Linked DNA regions of Homo sapiens: region 1 is linked to region 2. A link means that fine-mapping ties the variant in region 2 to the expression of a gene that starts in the linked region. Tissue or cell type: tibial nerve. Region 2 holds a variant in brackets; the other region holds the start of a gene. All regions are shown on one strand. Distances are between the middles of the regions.

Evidence for each region. PIP is the estimated chance that this variant, and not a neighbour inherited with it, causes the effect.
Region 1: PIGZ starts here. The variant in region 2 is fine-mapped to the expression of PIGZ in tibial nerve (GTEx, PIP above 0.99).

The regions. Positions count from the first base shown.
Region 1 is chr3:196,965,288-196,973,465 of GRCh38, forward strand. It overlaps PIGZ (phosphatidylinositol glycan anchor biosynthesis class Z (Gwada blood group)), which reads right to left and starts at 3,546. Exons shown (of 3, transcript NM_025163.4): 1 at 3,400-3,546. It overlaps LOC124906255 (collagen alpha-1(I) chain-like), which reads left to right and starts at 3,846. Exons shown (of 3, transcript XM_047449439.1): 1 at 3,846-3,962; 2 at 4,109-4,925; 3 at 5,014-6,524. The coding sequence starts at 3,846. The coding sequence ends at 4,924. RefSeq lists enhancers at 3,123-3,658, 3,659-4,194, 4,195-4,730 and silencers at 3,266-3,715, 3,776-3,985, 3,996-4,055, 4,166-4,225, 4,336-4,655 and 1 more.
Region 2 is chr3:196,616,258-196,624,435 of GRCh38, forward strand. No RefSeq gene overlaps it. Among named protein-coding and RNA genes, the nearest start is that of LINC01063, 12 kb to the right of the region's middle. RefSeq lists an enhancer at 3,957-4,026. The variant A/G (reference allele first, on the strand shown) is at 3,069.

The DNA of each region.
Region 1 (8,178 bases), 350 kb after region 2:
AAGGTGGCAAGAGAGAGTGTGAGTGGAGGAAATGACGGACGCTTATGGAACCATCAGATCTCATGAGAACTCCCTAACTATCCGAAGAACAGCGTGGGGGAAACCACCCCATGATCCGATCCTCTCCCACCGGGTCTTTCCCTCAACACTTGGGGATTACAATTCAAGATGAGATTGGGGCGGGGACACAAAAGCCTAACCATGTCATACCATTTGCCCAATTTAGTCCAGAATCCCACGGGCTATCTCCCTCCTCCTTTGTCCCTGCACTACGTAATGCCAACGTTGCTTGCTAATTATTCCTTGAACCCAGCTCTTGTTCCTCATTCTCCACTGTCATTGTCTGAGTCCAGGTATGCTGTGACTGGTGTGCATGTACCTGGGATTTCTTAGCCTTAGGGGTGGCTGGCTGTGCAGAATCTTTGGATGGCTGGAGGCCCTGGGTTGGTTGTTTCTGTTTGCAAACAGCCCCCTCCTTTGTTAACCAGTGTGTCATATAACAGCAATCATTTTCTGTGGATGAATAATGAGGGAGATGGTAAGAAGCATGACCTGGAGTAGACTGCACCGCCATCCGCCTCTCCACTTTCCCTCTCTCACTGCATCCTTCCTTCTGACTGCGGCAGAGACAGGCCGAATCACTCCCCTGTGAGAAACCTCTGGATGGGGGGCCATCCCCTCACCACCCTGAGGACCAGGTCCACATTCCTTACTGTGGCTGACAAGGCCCTCCATAGCTTCCAGTGTCCCCTTCCCGCCTCCACTCCTGTGTTCGTGAGTAGAATTCGGTGCTCCAGAAACATCACGCCTTTCTGCAGCCCTCTCCTCTATTCCGTGCTGTTTCTCACCCCAGCTTCTTGGCTCACACGGTTTCACTTACCCAATACGCTAATAACATGGAGGTTAAGACCAGCGGTGGCATCAGGTAACCCGGTTCAAGTCGTTGCTCTCTGTCACTTGTTCATGGTGAAAGCACTCAATCTCTCTGAACCCCAATTTATACCTCAGCTTTAAAACAAGTACCTATCTCAGGGCTGTTGTGAAGATGAAATGAAGAAAATATGCAGACATAAGTGGTTGCTTTCTTTATCCATCTTGCTTAACTGCCCTAACCCCCAAGAAGTCTTCCCTAACCCTCCTTCTGAAGGACCCTGTGCAAAACTCTGCAGGCGCCATGCGCTGACTGTTGTCTGATTATTTCTCTGCCCTGCTTGGCTGAGGTCTCCCAGGCATGGAGTCCCTTTGAGATTCATCTCCAGCCTGGGTGGGCCCACTGGGGCCCATCTGTCAAGGACAGAGCAGGAGGTCCTCCGGAGAAGGTGACAACGTAGTGGGGCATCGACCATAACAAATGCGGGAGCTCCAGGGAACGACCCCCGCCCGCTGGCGTCTCTCCAGTCTGAGACCCCACTGGAGGAGCTGTCCATGTGGCTGCCTCTCGCCTTTTATCCCAGGGGACAGAGCCAACGCCAAGCATGGCAACCACCCACCTTAACCTAATCAGGATGCAGCCTGCTCATTAATTCATTCATTCATTCAGAGGGATCTGTCCGGGTGCGGGTCCAGCACGGGTCCAAATCCTGCATCTCCAGTAGCCTCCTGGGGGTCGGTCGTCGGGAGGGCTCGTGAGCGGAAGGCTTTAGGATGAAGCGACAGGGCCCAGAGTCGTGGAGATTGGACTGGGGGGCAGGGGAGCAGGCATTGACAACCACGCCGACAGGGGCATCCCGCGCGCCTGTGTGGGAGAATGTGTAGGGCAAGCAGCAGGGAGAGACCATCTCAGAGACAGGGGAACAGCCAAGCAGAAACCACTGTGCTGGGCGCGGGGGGAGGCCGGGAAAGACAGCACATCTGCGGGGCGGGAGGAGGGGAGGGAAGGGAGTAGAAACACTGCTCCCGCCAGCCGCGGGTGATGGGGACACGTGTCCAGCTCGCTGAGTCCGAGGGCCTGGGCCCGCTTTGGGTGCCCTGTTTCTCCGGCGCCCAGGTGTGTGCGCAGAACCGTGTCTGCTCCAGGGACAGCCGTGAACGAGCGCCGTCCGGAGTGGCAGGGCCATCAGGTGTGGCTCATTCCAAGAAAGGTCCGTACCTTCACATGTAAACTTCCTGGCAAAGCTGCTGGGTTGCCGCTTATGGGAGAAGGCGGCGGGCCCAAGGTTCGGCCCCTTTGTCTGAATCTGGCATTTGGAGCAGGCTTTAAGACTTCGGGAAAAGCCGGGCCCCTGTGCAACCACCAAAGGCTGCTTCTCCCGCCCTCAGGACTAAGATCTTGTTCCAGTCCTCCAGTCCTCGGGGTCTACTCCAGGGGTACAAGGTGAGAGTGGCTCTCCAGAGTCCATTTGCCTTTTGGTGCCGCACTGCATCCTCACTTTGACCCTGAGCGCTGCAGTAAGCCCTGCAGGGTGCTCCACCTTGAAGCACGGGAAGATCTGATGCTGGCCGCCTTCTTCCTTCGGTTGCCTGAAAGGGCCCGTGTTTATCCTTCGCTTCACAGAGAACGCAACACACAACATTAAACACACATAGAGAGTGAAAGAGAACAAGGCATCTTCATCAAGGAGGGCGCACCATTTAACCACCCGCGACCTTGCAGTGCGCCTCTGCAAAGTGGGGACTCCGCTCTGTAGCAGGAGATGGGGGTGTTGACGATTTTGAAAGTAGTTCTCAGTTTTCCGAGGCAAAGGTGTCTGGGGCTGACGAATGACTTTTGAGAAGAAGGAATGATGAGAAATGTCCTCATTACAGAACTTTCCCGGCCACACTGTGAGTCCCACGCAAAGACCCCATGACCACCAACCGGAGCGCTGGGTGCTCCCTGGCAGGGTCACCTTTGCTTTTTGCGCGCCCCCATGCCACCCCTGGGGCAGGAGGCCATCCTCTTATCCTGGGAGTGCAGGCCTGGCCCGAAGTGCAGCCCCCGAGGCCGGGAGCCGAGATTCTTCTCGGCTTCGTGCTCAGAGCTTTGCAGCGTGGCATGGTTTCCTCCTCTTGCCCTGTTGCTGTTTCATACCAGGGGGAACTGAGACCCAGTCGGGTTATGGGCCTCCCTGAGAACACTGGCCTCTAGCAGAAGCAGATTCAACCCCAGGCCTCAACCTGCGCCCAGACCCGTGCCCTGGAGTGGAGTTTACCCACTGCCGCCCTTCCTGGGCAAATGTCACCGCTGCCTCCGTCCCCCTAGGTCCGGGGCGGGTCAGTGCTTCGAGCCAGCGGACCCCGGCCTAGGGACAGGTGCCTGCGAGAATGCGGGGGGCGGCCCCCAGCTCCCCTGCCCTCCTCCCTAGAGGCTGGGCCTGCTGGTCTCCCGGCTGCGCGCAAGGTGGGAACGCGGCCGACTTGGTCCGCTCGCCCTCCCCGCACCCGCTCCTCTGGAGCCGCTGGGGCTGCGCACCGACTCACCCGCGCGGCCTCCGGGCTGCGCCTTCAGCGCTGGCGGCGTCCTGCCCGGCGAGGGCCAGGGTCCCAGGAGGCCCCGGAGGCGGCGGGACCGCAGGGCGGAGGGGAGGCCGTGGGAGCGGCCGGGCGCGCCTCAGCAGCGCGGAGACTGGGGCCGCCGCCGCCGGCGCAGGGCGGGCCGGGAGGGAGGAGGAGCGCGCGGGCGGGGCCGCCGTGTACGTCCCCGCGCTCCCGCCCGGCCTGGCCCCGCGGTCCCGGAGCGAGCTGGGGCCGCGCTGGGGAGGGTCCTGGGGGCGCCGCCGTCCCTCGGGCCGGGCAACGCCGGGCGGGGACCGGTCTCGCCCCGCCGCGCTCGGGCTCCCTCCCCGGCGGCCCCTCCTCGGCGAACAGCCTTTCGGCGCGGGGGGCTGTTAAACCAGACACCCCAGGCCACACTCCTCTCGTTCGAAATGACCATTTCGGGGTTCTCCGTGGCGGGGAGCTCCGCCGCCGCCGTCCCCCTTCCACGCGCGGGAGGTCGGCGAGGGCAGGGCGGGGACCCGGAGTGCGGCCCCCGGTCCTGCTTCGTGGCCCGAAACGCCTCGCAATGGAGTCACTCATGACAGGGGACTCAGCGCACGGGGCGGCTGCTGAGCCCCGCAGCGATCGGCGGGCGTGAGGGGTTCCCCGGCGTGGTTGCCCGGGAGCCTGTCAGCCCCAGCAGCCCTGACAGGAAAGGGAAGTCGAGAGGAGGCTGAGCGAACGGCCGCCACCCCCGCGGGACGCTGACCCGGGCGGACCCCGAGGGGCCTCTCCCCGCGCCAGAGCGCGGCGTGCGCGGGGAAGCGCGACCCACCGGGGTCGGCGACGGCGCGCGGGGCGGGCGCGGCGGTTCCCTCTCCTCCGCCCGTGCCCGTGGGATCGGCGGGCTTGTCGGGCTGGGAGAGCCTCGTGGAACCCGGGCATCCGGGCAGCAGCGGCCTCCGAGCCACTGTGGAGGCGCCCGGGGTCGGCACGGCGAGGCCGACGGGGACCTGACACGGTCACGCGGCGCCGGGGAGCAGGTTCGAGTGGCCGGGCGTGGCCGTGCTGCCCCTCCGCGTTCCGCAGGCGGCGACGGGCGAGCGGCCCTAGCGGGCTGCAGGGAGGACGCCGCGTGGACGGAGAGCCGGCGCCCGGGGGCCAGATCCCCTCCCGGGACGGGGCGCCAGGTCCCCGCGAGCTGCGGCGCGACGCGCGGGCACCCGTGTCCCACCCGGTGGCCTCGCCGCTGCGGGCTGCGCTGAGAGCGGGGTGGCGCGACGCGGTCCCTCACCGCAGGGGGAAGACGGCACCACCGCGTCCCGGCCGCTGGAGCTTCCCGCCCGCGCCGCCGGCCCGACGCTGCCCCCTGGCGGGAGAGCGCTGCAGGGGCCCCGGCGAGGCCGCAGGACCCGACCTCCCCGCCGGCCTCGCACTCCCGCGCCGCCGCCGAGGGTCGGCAGCCGGATCGCCCTCCGTGCCCCATAGCACCCCTCACACTAAAAACGACGACTTTATTAAGATGTGAGGTATTCTATACATACGATAAATACCAGGAAATTTAAGTACAGTACATGGAAGTATACAGTTCCATGAATTTTTTCCTTTATTTTTTAGATACAGGGTCTCTGTCGCCCAGGCTGGAGTGCGGTGGCACGATCTCGGCTCACCGCAGCCTTGAACTTCTAGGCTCCAGCGATCCTCCTGCCTCAGCCTCCCGAGCAGCTGGGACCACAGGCCCCGCCACCATGCCCGGCTCAGTTCCATGACTTCTGACACGCGAAACCACCAGGCTAGTCTCCCCCCGAGTTCAAGAAGTCCTCTCCTCCCAAAAGTACCCTCCTGCCCCTCTGCAGCTAACCCCTCACCTCCCCTCCGCCCTGGTTCCAGACAACTGCTCCTCTGATTTCTGTCACTGCCCTTTGCCTCTCTCGCAATTGCATGCAAGGAGAACCATTCACCGTGTGGTCTTTTGTGCCTGGCTTTCTTCGCTTGGCACCATGCAGCTGAGCGTCGCCCGTGTGGCGTGTGTGTGTTGTATTTTCCTCTACCTTGGTCTTGAGACCTCCCTGGAGAGCCACTGTAAAGGCCAACTCTGCCCTGACAGGGCTCCTGGGATTTGGGCGTGGGTGTTTGCCGTGGGCCTTTCATGGGGCACCTCTGTATCCTGGCTGACCTGTGACCGGGTGTCCCTCTCCCAGGAGACATATTTATCCTGGCAGATCTCCTTGTGCTTCTTGTCTGACCTGTATCTAGTTTATTCCTACCAAGATAGCTGCTCTCTAGGGAAAGCCCTGACCAGGGAAAACGTTACGTTTGAGCGTCTCAGTCAGGCATGACACAGAGCAGGCAACACAACGAAACACAGGAACTAACAGAAGTGGTCCTATTACTTACAGATCCACAGGGGAAGAGGGCACACTGAGGGCCGTCGGGAATGTCTTGGGGACACTGTACACAATCGTTGTGGGGGTGGGGGGAGCCAGAGAGAGACGGACCTGTGGGCTGAGGCTTTTATTGGAGTGCAGGGCATTACTCAAGCAGTTTTCCCAAGGGGAGCTCTAATTGGTTCACCTAGAGGAGCGAACTGGAGTCCTGTGGGGCCACCTTGTGACTTAGGGGTGGTCACTGAGACATATCTGCATAGTCCATGCAGGGTGTGGGCGTCAGTGGGGTGAGTCTAGTTGGTTGTATGTATACATCCCACAAGGAGGCAGTTACCAGGAGGTGGCTACCTAGGACCAGATATCTGGACGGAATGTGTTGAGATACTGTTTCCAGCAGAGAGCTGGAAACTGTATCCAAGGTGACTAAGCCCTGCTTCTAGTATGAAATTGTTAACCCTATATTCAAAATGGATACTGAAGCAACCTAAAATTTCAGGTATTTACTAAAGTGTGTATCAAGTTCCCTCCTTACCACTGGTGAGTAGTATTCCATTGTATGGATATGCCACAGGCTGTTTGTCCATTTGGACATTGATGGATGGACTAAAGTTGGCCAAGCTGGGCTGGTGGGGAGGCACCCTCTCAGGACCCCAAAGGAGGATGCGGGGTTGTTGTTGGATGTCTGGGTTGTTTCCAGTTTGAAGGCATTGTGAATAAAACTGACTTGAGCCTTCCTAGAAAGTTTTTTGAATATACATATGTTTCATTTCTCTCGGATAAAATGCCTGGAAGTAGGCGGGATGGCTTGGTTGCATGGTGAGTCTTTTTTTAAAAAAATTTATTTAATTAATTAATTAATTAATTTTTTTGAGACGGAGTCTTGCTCTGTAGCCTAGGCTGGAGCGCAGCGGCACCATCTCAGCTCACTGCAAGCTCCGCCTCCCGGGTTCAGGCCATTCTCCTGCCTCAGACTCCCATGTAGCTGGGACTACAGGCGCCTGCTACCAAGCCCGGCTATTTTTTTTGTATTTTTATCAGAGACAGGGTTTCACTGTGTTAGCCAGGATGGTCTCGATCTCCTGACCTCGTGATCCATCCGCCTCGGCCTCCCAAAGTGCTGCGATTACAGGCGTGAGCCACCACACCCAGACTTTTTTTTTTTTTTTTTTTTTTGGGATGGAGTCTCGCTCTGTCGCCCAGGCTGGAGTGCAGTGGTGCAATCTTGGCTCACTGCAACCTCCGTCTCCTGGGTTCAAGTGATTCTCCTGCCTCAGTCTCCTGAGTAGCTGGGATTACAGGCTTGCGCCACCACACCCAACTAATTTTTGTATTTTGGGAGAGATGGGGTTTCACCATGTTGGTCAGGCTGGTCTTGAACTCCTAACCTTGTGATCCATCCGCCTTGGCCTCCCAAAGTGCTGGGATTACAGGTTTGAGCCACTGCGCCTGGCAGCATGGTAAGAAATTGTTTTTCAAAGTGGTCATACTATTTGACATTACCACCAGCAATGCATGAGAGCCCATAGCATTCTATGGTTTGTCTTTTCATTTTCTTTTTTTCCATGAGACAGGGTCTCATGCTGTCTCCCAGGCTGCAGTGCAGTGGTATAATTGTAGCTAAATGCAATCTCGAACTCCTGGGCTCAAGTGATCCTCCCACCTCAGCCTTCTGAGTAGCTGGGATGATAGGCACACGCCACTATGCCTGGCTAATTATTTTTATTTCAATTTTTTATCTTTAGTAGAGATGAGATCTCGCTATGTTGCCCAGGCTGGTCTTGAACTCCTGGGCTCAAGTGATCCTACTGCCTCAGCTTCCCAAAATGCTGGGAATACAGGTGTGAGCCACCACACCCACCTGTTTTTTCATTTTCCTAATGTTATCTTTCAAAGAGCCAAAGTTTCTAATTGTGACAGCGTCCAATTTATTAAACATTTTCCTTGATTGCCTACCTTAAGGTAAGGTTGCAAATATTTTCTCCTATATTTTCTTCTAGAATTGTATAGTTTTGGCTTTTTGTTTAGGTCTATGATACACTCAAACTAACTTTATGGGTGGTGTGAGGTAAGAATCAAGGGTCTTATTTATTTATTTATTTATTTATTTATTTAAGATGGAGTCTCATTGTCTCCCTCTCCCTCGCCCTCGCCCTCGCCCTCGCCCTCGCCCTCTCCCTCTCCCCACGGTCTCCCTCTGATGCCGAGCTGAAGCTGGACGGTACTGCTGCCTGATTCTCCTGCCTCAGCCTGCCGAGTGCCTGCGATTGCAGGTGCGCGCCGCCACGCCTGACTGGTTTTCGTATTTTTTTGGTGGAGACGGGGTTTCGCTGTGTTGGCCGGGCTGGTCTCCAGCCCCTAACCGCGAGTGATCCGCCAGCCTCGGCCTCCCGAGGTG
Region 2 (8,178 bases):
AAGTGATGCGATCTCAACTCACTGCAACCTCCGTCTCCCTGGTTCAAGCGATTCTCCTGCCTCAGCCTCCTGAGTAGCTGGGATTACAGGTGCGCGCCACCATGCCCGGCTAATTTTTGTATTTTCAGGTGAGACGGGGTTTCGCCATGTTGGCCAGGCTGGTCTCACACTGCTGGCCTCAAGTGGTCCACCTGCCTCAGGCTCCTAAAGTGCTGGGATTACAGACGTGAGCCACCGCGCCCGGCCACATTTCGTTCATTTTTATGGCTGCAGTTACAGTGTTCTAGCTGGTTCTTCTGTGTCCTTTATTTCCTATAAATGATCAATGAGATGTTAACATTTGATTTAATTCAAGTTAGACACTTTTAGCAAGGATATATCCTAAGTGCTGCTGGGTGCTTCGTGCGCACCATGGTGGAAGACATATTCTGGTTGTTCTCCCATCAGTGATGCTAATATTAACCCCTGCATTAGTGCTAACAGTGTGACCCTCTGATTGTGACCCCTTGATTGTGACCCCTTTATTGTGACTCCTTTATTGTGTTTCTTTTCCTCTCTTGTGACCAAAGAGAAGTCTGCATGGTTGCTGTTGCATCACACAAATGTCAGGTGATGTTTATTTTATTTTATTTATTTTTTTTGAGACGGAGTTTTGCTCTTGTTGCCCGGGCTGGAGTGCAGTGGCGCAATCTCGGCTCACTGCAACCTCCGCCTCCTTGGTTCAAGCAATTCTCCTGCCTAAGCCTCCCAAGTAGCTGGGATGACAGGCATGCACCACCACGCCTGGCTAATTTTTTTTTTTTTTTTTTTTTTTGGATTTTTAGTAGAGATGGGGTTTCTCCATGTTGGTCAGGCTGGTCTCGAACTCCCAACCTCAAGTGATCTGCCTGCCTCGGCCTCCCAAAGTGCTGGAATTACAGGCGTGAGTCACCGCACTCAGCCAAGTGATGTTTATTTAAAAGTCACAATTGGTCAGAAAAAGAAAAGGCAGATATGTTAGGATTCTCAAGGACATATATACAGAGAAAGAGATATTTTTAAGGAATTGGTTCACATAGATTATGGAGGTGGGCTAGTCCAAAATCTGCAGCGTGAGCTAGCAGGCTGGAGAACTTCCTCTTCCTCCAGGGAGCAGTCTTTTTGTTTCAGGCCTTCAGCAGACTGGATGAGGCCCACTCGCATTATGGAGGGTAATCTGCTTTGCTTAAAGTCCACTGATTTAAATGTTAATCTTATCCAAAAATATCCTCACAAAGACATCCGGAATAATGTTTAACCACATACTGCTCTGAAAAGTCAATGGGTTCATTTTTTTTCTATTAAAAAACCCCACCACATATCTCGGCATTGTGGCCCAGCTAAGCTGACATGTAAAATTAAGATATCACAGCAGCGCTGAGAGATGGAGCTTCCGTCTCTGCTACTGTGTTCTGTTCTTGTGTAAATAATGTAACACTTAGGGCCTCAGTTTTCCTCTCTGTAAAACAAAGGGTTTGGACTAAAAGATCTCTAAGTTCCCTTCCAGCTTTAAAGTTCTTTTAAAAATTGTGGTAGGACAGGCATAGTGGCTCGCGCCTGTAATCCCAGCAATTTGGGAGGCCGAGGCGGGCAGATTGCTCGAGGTCAGGAGTTCGAGACCAGCCTGGCCAATATCGTAAAACCCCCATCTCTACTAAAAACAAAAATTAGCCGGGTGTGGTGGTGGGCACCTGTAATCCCAGCTACTCAGGAGGCCGAAGCAGGAGAATTGCTTGAACCCGGGAGGCGGAGGTTGCAGTGAGCCGAGATCGCGCCATTGCACTGCAGCCTGGGCGATAAGAGTGAAACTCTGTCTCAAAAAAAAAAAAAAATCGTGGTAAAATACATGTAACAAAAAATTACCATCTTAACCATTTGTAACAGTACAGTTCAACAGTGTTAAGTGTATCCCCACTGTTGTTCAATCTCCAGGAGTGTTTCATCTTTCAGAATGAACTCTCCATACACTAAACATTTATTTCTCCCTCTCCACAGCCCCTGGATGCTTTCAATGCTTGTGGGTATATTCCCATAAGCAGAATTGCTGGGTTCTGTGGTAATTCTTATTATAAGGTTTTAGGGAGCTATCACACTGTTTTCTATACTGGCAGCACCATTTTATATTCCCACCAGTAGTGCACAGGACTTCCAGGTTCTCTACATCTTTTCTAACACTTGTTGCTTTCAGGTTTGTGTGTATGTTTTTTTGTTTTTGTTTTTGTTTTGTTTTTGTTTGTTTTGGTTTTTTTTTTTTTTGAGACGGAGTCTCCCTTTATCACCAGGCTGGAGTGCAGTGGTGTGATCTTGGCTCACTGCAACCTCCGCCTCCCGGGTTCAAGTGATCCTCCTGCCTCAGCCTCCTGAGTAGCTGGGATTACAGGTGCCAGCCACCACGCCCGGCTAATTTTTGTATTTTTAGCAGAGACGGGGTTTCACCATGTTGGCCAGGATGGTCTCCATCTCTTGACCTCGTGATCCACCCGCCTTGGCCTCCCAAAGTGCTGGGGTTACAGGCATGAGCCACTGCGCCAAGCCTTGTGTGTGTGTTTTATAGCAGCCATCCTCATAGGTATAAGGTGATATCTCATTAAGATTTTGATTTGCATTTTCCTAATGATTAGTGCTGTTGAGCATCTTTTCGTAGGTTTGTTAGTCATTTGTTTATCTTTTTTGAAGAATTGTCTACTTAAGCCCTTTGCCCATTTTTAAATGAGGTTGTTTTTGTTGTTGTTGAGTTATAAAAGTTCTTTATATATTCTGGATATTAACTCCTTATCAGATGTGTGATTCACAAATGTTTTCTCCCGTCTCATGGTTTGTCTTATCCCTCTGTTGATTGCGTCCTTTAATGCACATAAACTTCTTTAAGCCTGTGAAATTTGGGGTTGCAACTCTTCCTCCCATCTGTGGCCCATGGCTGCAGGCTGAGGACCTTAACCTCTCTGTCCTAAATGAGTGGTATGCCTGCCCTCCTATCTCTTTGATGATACATATTTCAGAATAGAACTCTAAGTTCTTATTGCTGGAATCAACTTTGGAATTCTTGTCCA[A/G]CCTCATTTTACTCATGGACAAACAAGGCCCTTTGTGAGCAACAGAGCTGGATCTAAAGTGTGAGCTTCTCTCTCCTTCCGGCGCTCTCTGCACTGCGATGCAACTCGACAAGTCAGCTGGTCTTTGTAATGAACTCCTCAGGAAACACAAGCAATTACAGGAAAAGACAACCAGGCTATTAAGAGGGAATTTTATTCTATTGAAACTCTGTTATGGGGAAACGTGTGTGTTTGTTATAGGTAATCTATTTACATTTTCAAAAACCTTTTTTTTTTTGGTAATTATTTTATTTTATTTTATTTTTTTATTGATCATTCTTGGGTGTTTCTCGCAGAGGGGGATTTGGCAGGGTCATAGGACAATAGTGGAGGGAAGGTCAGCAAATAAACAAGTGAACAAAGGTCTCTGGTTTTCCTAGGCAGAGGACCCTGGGGCCTTCCGCAGTGTTTGTGTCCCTGGGTACTTGAGATTAGGGAGTGGTGATGACTCTTAACGAGCATGCTGCCTTCAAGCATCTGTTTAACAAAGCACATCTTGCACCGCCCTTAATCCATTTAACCCTGAGTGGACACAGCACATGTTTCAGAGAGCACAGGGTTGGGGGTAAGGTCACCGATCAACAGGATCCCAAGGCAGAAGAATTTTTCTTGGTACAGAACAAAATGAAAAGTCTTTCAAAAACCTTTTTACTTTCTAAAAGCAACTACACATATTCTAGGACTGCAAGTGCTGTTTTCTGGTAAACGGGGAGTTGCTTAGAAACCAGGAATGAGGGATGGAGACCAACGGTCTTCTGTGGATGAAGTATAAACAGTAACTCTTCTAAGGAATCAGTACTAACCTTGGGAAGAAGATGAGCATGATTTTTCTCTGTACAACCTCTACCCCTCTTCTGATGAAAGCACCTGCTTTTCTTTAGGGCCTACTCCATCAACAGGAGCCCATGTCGTTTGGGTGGAGCTTCAGGAATCGGCATATGAGTCAGTCCAGAAAAATAGGCACATCCCACCCGCCAACCACAGTGACTGATTGCGGAAGAGGCACTTGACCCCAGGTCACACAAGGGGGTTCCGTCCTGGGACTTTTGCTGCACTGTTTTGAAAGAGGCCTCTTTCCCCCTGGTATTGCTAGACTAGCAGGCCATGGGCCCGAAACTGCCAGAACGCACCCTTGATGCCACCCGGGTAGAGTCAGGGGAGAGCAGGGCTGAGAGTTGGAGACACAGATTCCTGAAAGCATTGTTTGAGCGCGTGGATCCAGTCTTGCTTTAAATCAGACTTTTTAGTAACATGAACCGATCAATTCCTCTGCTACACCAGTTTGAGTTGGGTTTCTATCACTAGTGATTAAAAGAGTCCTCATTAGTCCAGATTGTACTTTAAGTTGCTTGTATACATTATCTGGAGGAGAGTATAAAAATAATAGGCTATAAATAGTGAGACTAATATTAAGTTATTTTAGGTAATAAAAAGTCAAACTGATGGGAATAGTTCTGTGGGGAAATTGTGTGAAGCTATGTTAACAGTAAGAAAAGTGACTAGGTTTTGGTGTAAGTAAATGCCTGGTCACACATTCGGGAAATAATAATTTAAGTTCTATTTCTAGTATGACACATTGCAAGGCAAAGAATAAGTCATTAAGGGCTCTTTAAGAACATTCAGTGCAAAGATGCTACTGCACATAACATATTAGAAAAGTATAATAGAAGTAAAACAGGTGACAACGTTTAAAAAAACAAACAAACAAAAAAAAACAGGTGGCCAGATGCAGTGGCTCACGCCTGTAATCCCAGCACTTTAGGAGGTCGAGGTGGGCAGATCACTCGAGGTCAGGAGATCAAGACCAGCCTGAGCCAACATGGTGAAACCCCATCTCTACTTAAAAAATAGAAAAAAAAAAATTAGCGGGGGGTGGTGGTGCACGCCTGTAATCCCAGCTACTCGGGAGGCTGAGGCAGGAGAATCACTTGAATCCGGGAGGCGGAGGTTGCAGTGAGCCAAGATCACACCACTGAACTCCAGCCTGGGCGACACAGCAAGGATCTGTCTCAACACAAAACAAAACAAACAAACAAAACCAACAGGTAACATTCATCCCACTGTTGCATAGAATCACAACGGGCCGGATGTATTCCGTCTGAGCTTCCAGATCCACTGTCTACCCTCTCCCACCCTGCTCTCTGCTCAGCAGACCTGTGTCCTTTGTCCTCTAGCTGGGGTCCCTAAACAGGGATCCCCGTCAGGGAGGGGAGAGTGGTCGCGTGTTTGCTCCCCTGGTTTCCTCCTGCAGGGCTTCCTCGGGGAGCTGCTTCCCTAGATCAGGGGTCACAGGGCTTCTCCAGTAGCCTCTCCAGGCGCCTGTGGACTCTCACCTTTTGGGCTCTGATCATTGTTGCCTCCCCCAGACCTAGGGAAGTAACAGCCCTTTGGGGCAAGTCCTGGGCTCCCGCTTTGCCGTGACCACACTGGGTACTAGTCCCTTTATTAAACTCTCCTCAAATTGCCTAACTTGCAGATGGCAACTGTTTCCTATGATATGACATAATATATCATAACGCACGTTCTTTTTTTTTTTTGAGACAGAGTTTTGCTCTGTTGCCCAGGCTGGAGTGCAGTGGCTCAATCTCAGCCGCTCACTGCAACCTCCGCCTCCCGGGTTCAAGCGATTCTCCTGCCTCAGCCTCCCTAGTAGCTGGGATTACAGGCACTCGCCACCATGCCAGGCTAATTTTTGTGTTTTTAGTAGAGATGGGGTTTTGCCATATTGGCCAGGTTGGTCTCAAACTCTTGACCTCAGGTGATTTACCCGCCTTGGCCTCCCAAAGTGCTGGGATTACAGGCGTGAGCCACCGTGCCTGGCCACGCAACGCACATTCTATGTCCACATTTGGAAAATTACCTTTGATTGTGAGTGTTCAGCCTCAAGAAAACAGCAAGGCAGGCAAAGTCTAAAGGAGGGGAAGTGAAGAGATCAAGAGCTGGGAGTGTGAGCTAGAACAGTCATATCGGGACCGATTAAATGTGATGCCTGAACTTATAATCTTCATATGAATAACTGATCGGTTTGATTATAGACTAGAATGTTAGTAAAGGGAGGACATCTTACACCTGGAGATATGCTTTAAATAAATAAAATGGAGTATTACCTCGTGCAGAAGGTTGTACACTCACGAAATTCATTACTCTAAGAGGCAGTACAATTTGAAAGTAAAAATCAATTCCAAAATGCTTTAAATACACAAATGAAGGAGTTTTAAGTCACCCAGGGAAACCTGAATTTTGAGGTTAATATCAAGATGTGAGAGGGGTAAATGGACTAGAGCTGATCTGGAAATTTTTATGTTTAATAATAAATGAAATTTTGAATATAAATAAAACTTAGGTTAGCTTTTCATTTTCCACCTTAGTTGGCCCTTCTGAAAACATTCACCTTATATAATACATTTACCTCTTTCATTTGAATTCTGAACTACTATCTGCTGCCCTCTCAGGACGTTTTAACCTGGAGTCCATGGATTCAAGGGGTCTATGGATAGAATTGTATTTCAATGTAGTCTATTTCTTCTCCTTGAGTATGTATTTCATTTTCTACATTTAAAAACGTGATTCTGAGGAGTCCACAGGAGTTGCCAGAGTACCAGAGGGTTGTGTGGCAAGTCAAGTTTAAGATTCCCTTGTAGGCCAGGTGCGGTGGCTCACACCTGTAATCCCAGCACTTTGGGACGCCGAGGAGGGCGAATCATGAGGTCAGGAGTTCAAGACCAGCCTGGCCAACATGGTGAAACCCTGTCTCTACTAAAAATACAAAAATTAGCCAGGTGTGGTGGCGGGCTCCTGTAATCCCAGCTACTCGGGAGGCTGAGGCAGGAGAACTGCTTGAACCCCGGAGGCGGAGGTTGCAGTGAGCCGAGATCACGCCACTGCACTCCAGCCTGGGTGACAGAGCAAGACTCCATCTTGAAAAAAACAAAGATTCCCTTGTAGACCAAACCAGCTGTCTGGGCTTCCCAGGGGGTAACAGAGAAGGGCACTGCCTTGCTTCACAATTCTTGTAAGGATCCTGGTTACCAGGGCACTTCCCAGCCTTTGGAGAGACGGGGATCTCTCTCCACTTTGGTGTGGATGCAGAAGCACAGAGACTAGAGTTGAGGCAGAAACAAGTAAGAGGCTCTCCCAGCCCAGGGCCTGTTTGGGAAGGAGGAAGCTGAGCTGCCAGGGCCATCTTCCAGGCCCAGTACAGGCGGCACCTCCCTTCCTGATTGCTGCCAACATAGACTCTCTCTGCAGTTCCACTCTCTGATCCCATCCTGCACAACTGGATGCACTTTTGGACCACGCACTGGGACAAAACTGAATTTAAAAATTTAAATTAGGCCAGGCGCAGTGGCTCATGCCTGTCATCCCAGCACTTTGGGAGGCTGAGGTGGGCAGATCACCTGAGGTTGGGAGTTTGAGACCAGCCTGGCCAACCCAGAGAAGCCCCATCTCTACTAAAAATACAAAATTAGCTGGGCATGGTGGTGCATGACTGTAATCCCAGCTACTCAGGAGGCTGAGGCAGGAGAATTGCTTCAACCCGGTAGGTGGAGATTGCAGTGAGCTGAGATCATGCCACTGCACTCTAGCCTGACAAAGAGAAACTTCGTCTCAAAAAAAAAAAAAAATTAAATGAAAAATAATTGATCCTAGTGAAAAAGATTTCAGTGGAATAAAGATAGACAAAAATGGAAATGTTTCAAATGAGTGTCATGGAAAGATGACCAAAGAATTCAACTGACTGTGTGAGTTTGTTCCAGAAAACATGTTCTTTAGAACAAAACGTTCTTTAGTTCCCTACAGGGACTCCTAGTGACCACCGCCATCTCATTAATAAGTGGCTTTGATTCTTGGACTCAGTAAACAAAATGGCTTGAGGCGTGTGGAACTGAGTGTCTTTACTCTTTTGAAAATTGTACTAAATGCTTGTCCCTAAGAGGTTTAGCCCTTAGACAATGCATGGAGGGAAATTATTTGCAAAACTCCCCACTCTCTGGAAAATCATTTGTTCTGGTCAGATTCCTGGAATTCATATACAGATACTGGGGTCTCTCACAGTTTTTTCTGCCACTTT